Homo sapiens: one gene and its partner. The protein of the gene in region 1 purifies or fractionates together with the protein of each later gene. This does not show direct contact. Each region holds a gene or a part of one and is shown on either strand. Other genes may lie near its edges.

Evidence for each region.
Region 2: the proteins of NXPE3 (region 1) and ARHGAP17 purify together in Homo sapiens (co-immunoprecipitation; one large-scale study listed by IntAct). This does not show direct contact.

What each region holds. Positions count from the first base shown.
Region 1 is NC_000003.12:101,785,711-101,789,528, forward strand, and holds part of NXPE3 (NXPE family member 3 isoform 1 precursor), read left to right. Parts: intron 1-3,818.
Region 2 is NC_000016.10:24,931,659-24,935,476, forward strand, and holds part of ARHGAP17 (rho GTPase-activating protein 17), read right to left. Parts: coding exon 3,812-3,818; intron 1-3,811. UniProt on the Homo sapiens protein: Rho GTPase-activating protein involved in the maintenance of tight junction by regulating the activity of CDC42, thereby playing a central role in apical polarity of epithelial cells.

The DNA of each region.
Region 1 (3,818 bases):
TCATAACTAAGGGAGCCGAGTCTGGGGATCTGGGGCTAACTAGCCTGGGAAAACGTTGGTTATCGGAAGATTATCGTAGTCACAGTTCTTGTTTTCATTTATTCGGTAAGTATTTGCGTGCTCACAATGGTTATATACGCTGCTAGTCACCGAGGGTACAGTGAAGACATTTCTTCACTTACAGGCCTTTCTTTCTAGTGCTCACATAATAAGTGTGCATGGAAGAAAAGTAGTAGTAATCATAATCACATAATAATAGTAACGATAATTGGACATTGTGAAAAGTGCAAAAAGGAAAGGGAGCTATTCTAGGATACCTTTAGAGTGATGAAGGAAAAACCTCTTCAAGGAGGGGACCTTTCAGTCAACCCATGGAAAAAAGCTGAAGGAGTATTTCAAGGGAGGGAGTAGATGAGTCTGTGTTGGAGATTACTAGATGGTACTCAGGGACCATGTCTTACTGAATCCCTCACAAGGGCCTGTCACTAAGAAGGTACTTAGTAGTGTTCCTTCTTCCCTGTCCCCAGCCCCAACATGAACTCATATAACCAAAATTTATGGTGGAGTTTCTGTATAAAGGATGCTGTCCTTTTGTTTTGTTGGCTTGTGGTACTTCTCAGATTACATATCCAACTTAATTATGGCATTTCTTTTCTTATTGGGTTTTATTAGCCTAAGGTGCTCTAAAAGCTAAGCCATAGGCTTTTAAAAAAATTTCTCCTGCTGGAATCAACTTTGTGGTTTTTAGCAGAACACCTAATCTCTCTGTGAAATGGGCACACTAAGGTCCTACAGATCTTTTCCTGTGCGCTGTGAGTAAAATTTGTTTGGTACTATGGAGAATGTGAAGTAATTCTGTTAAAGATTCTGTTAAAGATTTCCTATTAGAAATAGGCTTAAGGCATAAAAGCTAAGTATTTCTTCTTCTTTTTCTTTGCTTAAACTGTTCTTGTGTGTTTTACTATATAAGATACTACCAATCCTACACCGATAGTTCCTTTTACCTGGAAGCTGTTGATGATGTGTCTAGATATTTTAGAAACTCTTTTTTTAAAGTATTTTTTGTGGTAAATAACTAACATAGAATTTGTCATTTTAACCATTTTTAGGTGTACAATTGAGTAGCATTAAGTACATTCACATTGTTGTGCAATCACCCCACCATCTATGTCTAGAACTTTTTCATCTTCCCAAACTGCAGCTCTTTACCCATTAAACAGTGATTACCTAGGTCAGGCGCAGTGGCTCACACCTGTAATCCCAGCACTTTGGGAGGCTGAGGTGGGAGGATCCCTTGAGGTCAGGAGTTCAAGACCAGCCTGGTCAACCTGGTGAAACCCCGTCTCTACTGAGAATCACTTGTACCTGGGAGGCAGAGGTTGCTGTGAGCTGAGATCATGCCACTGCATTCCAGCTTGGGCTACAGAGGGAGACTGTCTCAAAAAAAAAAACACAACAAATCCAAAAAACAATGATTACCCATTCCTGCCTATCCCCTGCCCCTGGCATTCACTCTTCTACTTTGTGTCTCTATGAACTTGACAACTCTAAGTACCTTATACCAGTGGAATCAATCATATGATATTTGTCCTTTTTTTGTTTGTTTGTTTGTTTGAGACAGAGTCTCGCTCTGTTGCCCAGGCTGGAGTGCAATGGCACGATCTTGTCTCACTGCAACCTCTGCCTCCTGGGTTCAAGCGATTCTCATGCCTCAGCCTTCTGAGTAGCTGGGATTACAGGCGTGTGCCACCACGCTTAGCTAATTTTTGTATTTTTAGTAGAGATGGCGTTATGCCATTTGACCAGGCTGGTCTTGAACTCCTGACCTCAAGCGATCCTCCCACCTTGGCCTTCCAAAGTGCTGGGATCACAGGTGTGAGCCATGAAGCCTGGCCTGGTATTTGTCTTTTTGTGATTGGCTTATTTCTGTTAGCATAACGTCCCCAAGGTTCACTCATGTAGCATGTATCAGAATTTCTTTTCTTTTTAAGGCTGAGTAATACTTCTCTGTCTACACATAGACGGAGGAATATTATTCAACCTTAAAAAGGAAGGAAATTCCGATAGATGCTACAGCATGTACATACATACCACATTTTGTTTATCCATTCATCTGACATTTGGGTTGTTTCTACCTTTTGGCTATAATGGATAACAAGTATTTCTTCAAGACTCTGCTTTTAATTCTTTGGAATAGGTACCCGCAAATGGAATTGCTGGATTATATGGTAATTTTAATTTTTTGAGGAACCACCATATTATTTTCCATAATAGCTGCATCATTTTTTATCCTTATCAACAGTACACAAGGGTTCCAATTTCTTTGCATCCTCGCCAGCACTTGTCATTTTGTTTTGTTTTTTTGATAGTAGCCTTCTTTGTGGATGTGAGGTAATGTATAACAGTAGTTTTAATTTGCATTGCCATAATTATTAATGATGTTGAGCATCTTTCTATCATGTGCTTTTGGATAAATATCCAATTCCGGTACTCACTGTTTAACGGAGTTGTTTGTTTGTTTTTTGTTGTTGTTGAGTTGTAGGAGTTCTTTATGTGTTCTGGATATTCACTCCTTATCAGACATATGATTTGCAAATATTTTCTCCCATTCCATAGGTTGCTTTTTCACTCTGATTTTGTCCTCTGATACATAAAAATTTTTACTTTGGATGTAGTCCAGTTTATCTGTTTTGACTTTTGTTGCCTGTGTATTTGGTGTCATATCCAAGAAATCATCACCAAATTCAATGTTGTAAGACCTTTCCTCTGTGTTTTCTTCTAAGAGTTTTATAGTTTTAGCTCTTACGTTTAGGTCTTTGATCTACTTTGTTATCCTTTAAAAAAATTGTGATGAAAACACATAAAATTTGGTATCTTAGTTATTTTTAGGTGTACAGGTCAGTAGCATTAAGTCTTTTTTTTTGAGACGGAGTCTTGCTCTGTTGCCCAGGTTGGAGTGCAGTAGCATGATCTCGTCTCACTGCAACCTCCTCCTCCCAGATTCAAGTGATTCTCTTGCTTCAGCCTCCCGAGTAGCTGGGATTACAGGCGTCTGCCACCATGCCCAGCTAATTTTTGTATTTTTAGTAGAGATGGGGTTTTGCCATGTTGGCCAGGCGGGTCTTGAACTCTTGACCTCAGGCGATCCACCCACCTCGGCCTCCCAAAGTGCTGGGATTACGAGCATGAGCCACCATGCCTGGCCTCAGTAGCATTAAGTCTTATTTACATTGTCTTGGAATAGATTTCCAAAACCCCTTTTATCTTTTTAATATCTGTAGAATTGTGTTTATCTTATTACTCCTGATCACTCTGACCAGAGATTTGTGTTTTATTGATCTTTTTGAAGAACCAGCTTTTGATTTCATTTTCTGTATTTTTTCTGTTTTTTTGTTTGGTCAATTTCCATTCTGATCTTTATTATTTCCCTTCTTCTGTTTACTTTGGATTTAATTGTCTCGTCCTAGTTTCTTAAAGTGATAGCTAAAGTCATTGTTTTGAGATCTTTCTTTTCTAATTAAATGTTTAATGCTATAAATTTTCTTCTACAAGGCTGGGTGTGGTGGCTTAGGCCTGTAATCCCAGCACTTTGGGAGGCTGAGACAGGAGGATCACCTGAGGCCAGAAGTTTGAGACCAGCCTGGGCAACATAGTGAGACCCCATCTCTACAAAAAATTTTGAAAAATTAGGTGAGTGTAGTGGTGTGTGCCTGTTGTCCTAGCTACTTGGGAAGCTGAGACGGGAGAATCCCTTGAGCCCAGGAGTTTGACTTTATGGTGAGCTATGATCATGTCACTGCACTTCAGCTTGGGCAGCA
Region 2 (3,818 bases), on another chromosome or scaffold:
CCATAGAAAAGCACAGAAAGACGGAGAACATGTCACAGACAGCAGGAGACGAAGAAGATACGATGACTACATATAATGTGGGCTCCTGGATGAGATCCTGGGACAGAAAATGGACATGAGTGGAAAAACTAGGGAAATCTGAACAAAATGTGGAGTCTAGTTAATGGTAATGAACCGCAAGGTGCAGTGGCTCACGCCTGTGATCTCAGCACTTTGGGAGGCCAAAGCAGGCGGATCACTTGAGTGCAGGAGTTCAAGGCCAGCCTGAGCAACGTGGCAAAACCCCATCTCTACAAAAAACTACAAAAATTAGCCGGGCGTGGTGGCATGCGCCTGTAATCCCAGCTACTCATGAGGCTGAGGTGGGAGGATCCCATGAGCCTGGGAAGTCCAAGGCTGCAGTGATCACACCACTGAATTCCAGCCTGGGCAACAGAGTGAGACCATTTCAAAAAAAAAAAAAAAGTTGGGGGGGATGGGGGGACTAGCCCAATGTTGACTTCTGAGCTGGGGTAAATGTGCCATGGTCATGTAACACATTAACAACAGGGGAAACTGAGTAAGGGGCATATGGGAACTCTCAGCATTATCTTTGCAACTTTTCTATAAATTCAAAATTACTCCAAACAAACAAGTTTATTTTAAAAATTAAGTACATTATGCACATTTGAAAGGGCTTTAAAGGCCTATCGTTTTGAAAGTTCAATAAGAAGAAAACTGTTAACAGAGGCCACCCCAATGACACGGAAGTGCTGCCCTCAGCCCACTTAGCAGCCTCCTCATTAGGGCCCCATGGGAAGACGCAGAAAGAGGCAGAACAGCCAGGAGGGACCACCAAGCATGACTAGTTCACCCTGATATAACATGACCCCTGATCCCAAGCCACCTTCTCCTTGAGAGTTTGATTGGTTTGATTGGTCTTAATAACAGAATTTCTACCAATTCCGCAACCATTTGAGTTAATAGATATGTCCTGGACAAAAGCATGAATAAATCTGGAAGAGTTGCCTTAGAATTATTTCTCTAAAGAGAGCTGAATCACATCACTCTCCTCCCTACACCAGCTGAGATCAGGGATAGGAACCTGGGACTGATGAGGGCAGGAGGGAAAACAACAGATCTGGGGCTCTGGTTTTGGGCTGGGAGGGGTAGGGGGAAAGGAGAGATTTTAGCCTTTTTCAAACTCTGCTAAGATCCTACTGGTTCTCTAAGAAAGAAGGAGAAGGAAATGAAGGAAAGAAATGAACATGTATCACTCTTATCACCAGTACCAAGTAAGGCCTTTTATATAAATTATGCACATTATAATTTATATAAATTATCTCATTCAAGTTTCATAAGCTCATTGCAGGGCAAGCTCTGTTATCCCCATTTTCACAGAGAAGAAAACTGAGGCTTGAAGAGGGCCAGTGTTTGGTAATAGGTCACACAGCTAGTAAGGGGCAGAACTGAGACTCCTGCCCATGACATGTGGACTCCCTGAATGCTTTTTCCTCTTCCTCCTTCCCCTATTCCCCGGCTGCCTGTTTACAGGGCCCAGAATTCAGGATTGAAAAGGGTAAAGTCTCGGTGGCTCATGCCTGTATTCCCAGCACTCTGACTGGCTGAGGCAGGAAGATCACTCAAGACCAGCCTGGGCAACACAGTGAGACCCCGACTCTACAAAAAAATAAAGCAGCCAGGCATGGTGGCATGTGCCTGTAGTACCAGCACTTTGAGAGGCCAAAGTGGGAGGATCACTTGAGTCCAGTGGCTGGAGGATGCAGTGAGCTATTATCACGCCACTGCATTCCAGCATGGGTGAGAAAACGAGACCCTGCCTCTAAAAAACATAAGAAAGGAAAAAAAAAAAGAAAAAAGGGTAAAGTCTACTCTGCTACACTGGTCTGGAACTTTCAACCCTGGAACTCAGAAACCACCAACCAGCTTACATTAGCTGTACTCCAGACTGCCATCGGCATTTAAAAAAAAAGTCTAGTTTTCTGTTCTAAGCAATACTAATTGTAAAGTCATACTGAATAAAAGCTCGTTCCTGAAATTTAAGGGTGTGAAGAGGATGGGGAGAGGGAGCGTGGGAGCAAAGTGTCAGGGGGAGGGGGCTGGGAGAAATGGAGGCCTTGTCTGAGACCACCTCAGAGGCGCAGGGGGTGGGGAAGGAAAAAAGAATCAAACCCATCCTGCGAAGAAGCCTGGGAGCTGTGATTTCGGGAAGCATGAAAGACTCTGAATGCGGCTATAAGGAAAAGAGTCTTCTTAATCCAAAACCAGAGTCACACCTGGAATCTAGGTCCAGAAGACTAACTTCCCTCAAGGATCAGCTGAGATCCTGATAAGATGACAGGGCCCAGAGAGGCAGCCTGAAGAAGAATAAAGTGGGGGTCTGCAACCAAGCAGTGGACTCGGATTTGCCTCCCTGCCTATGATTTGTAGAAATTCCACTAACATTTGTGTAGTGCTTTGTAAAGACCATGCTTCTATAGACAGACACAGTGAATTTAATCCATTTTTTTTTCTTTTTTCGGGACAGAGTCTTGCTCTGTTGGCCAGGCTGGGGTGCAGTGGCACAATCTTGGCTCACTGCAACCTCTGCCTCCCAGGTTCAAGCAATTCTCCTGCCTCAGCCTCTTGAGTAGCTGGGACCACAGGCGTGCAAGCACCATGCCCGGCTAATTTTTGTATTTTTAGTAGAGATGGGGTTTCACCATGTTGGCCAGGCTTGAACTCCTGGCTCAAGTGATCCACCCACCCCGGCCTCCCAAAGTGCTGGGATTACTGGTGTGAGCCACTGCGCCTGGCCTCTCTTTTTTATTTTAGAGATGGGGTCTCACTCTGTTGTCCAGGCTGGAGTGCGGTGGTGCAATCATAGCTCACTGCAGGCTCGACCTCCTGGGCTCAAGTGATCCTCCTGCCTCAGCCTCCTGAGTAGCTGGGACTATAGGTGTGTGTCACCACACCCAGATAATTTTTAAAATTTTTTTTGTAGAGGTGGGCTCTCACTATGTTGACCAGATTGGTCTCCAACTCCTGGCCTCAAGCGATCTTCCTGCCTCAGCCTCCCAAAGTGCTGGGATTATAGGTGTGAGCCACCACGCCCAGCTGGAAGAAGTGATTTTTGAGGTGAGACCTGAATGGTAAGAAGAAACCATGTGAAGATATGGGACAGAATGTTCTGGAAGCCCTAAGGAGGGGATGAACTTAGTTCATTCAAGGAACCAAGAGTGGAGTGTGTTGAGAGGAGGGAGTGTAAGCTCTGGGCTCAGAGGTAGGCCCCACCAAAGCACAGAGAACCCAGGGTGAGAAGTTCGCATGGAAGCCACTGAAGAGTTTAACCAAGAGACGACATGATCTGCTTGGAGTTTTAAAGCAATTCCCCTGGCTGCTGGGTGGAGGACTGCAGGGAAGACAGGTGGGAGCAGTTCAGATTCTGTTAATCAGGACCTAGAAAGCCTTCACCCCAATTCCGAAGCAAAAGTGCCTCCCAGACCCACAAAGCTGAGAAGTACAGAGGCTGTGGTAGTCTCCAAACAGAGCGAGGGCTTGGGACACCAGGAAAACTGGGAGCATTTCTGCAGAACTGACTGTTTGTTAAGCTTTGTCACGCCTAAGGAAAAACTAAATGTCTGCTTTTCTGTTCTCTATTTTTTCCTTTTTCTTTAATGACTTTTCTCTTGAATGACTGAATTTTCTGCTTGGGATTTTACAACAGACATAGAAAAGATCTGGCCACAAACCTCACCATCTGAATCCTTGCACTAACTTAAGGAGGTCTGCACAGGCTTCCCTGAGGGCAAGGAGGACGGTGGCTGCTTACCTCGGCG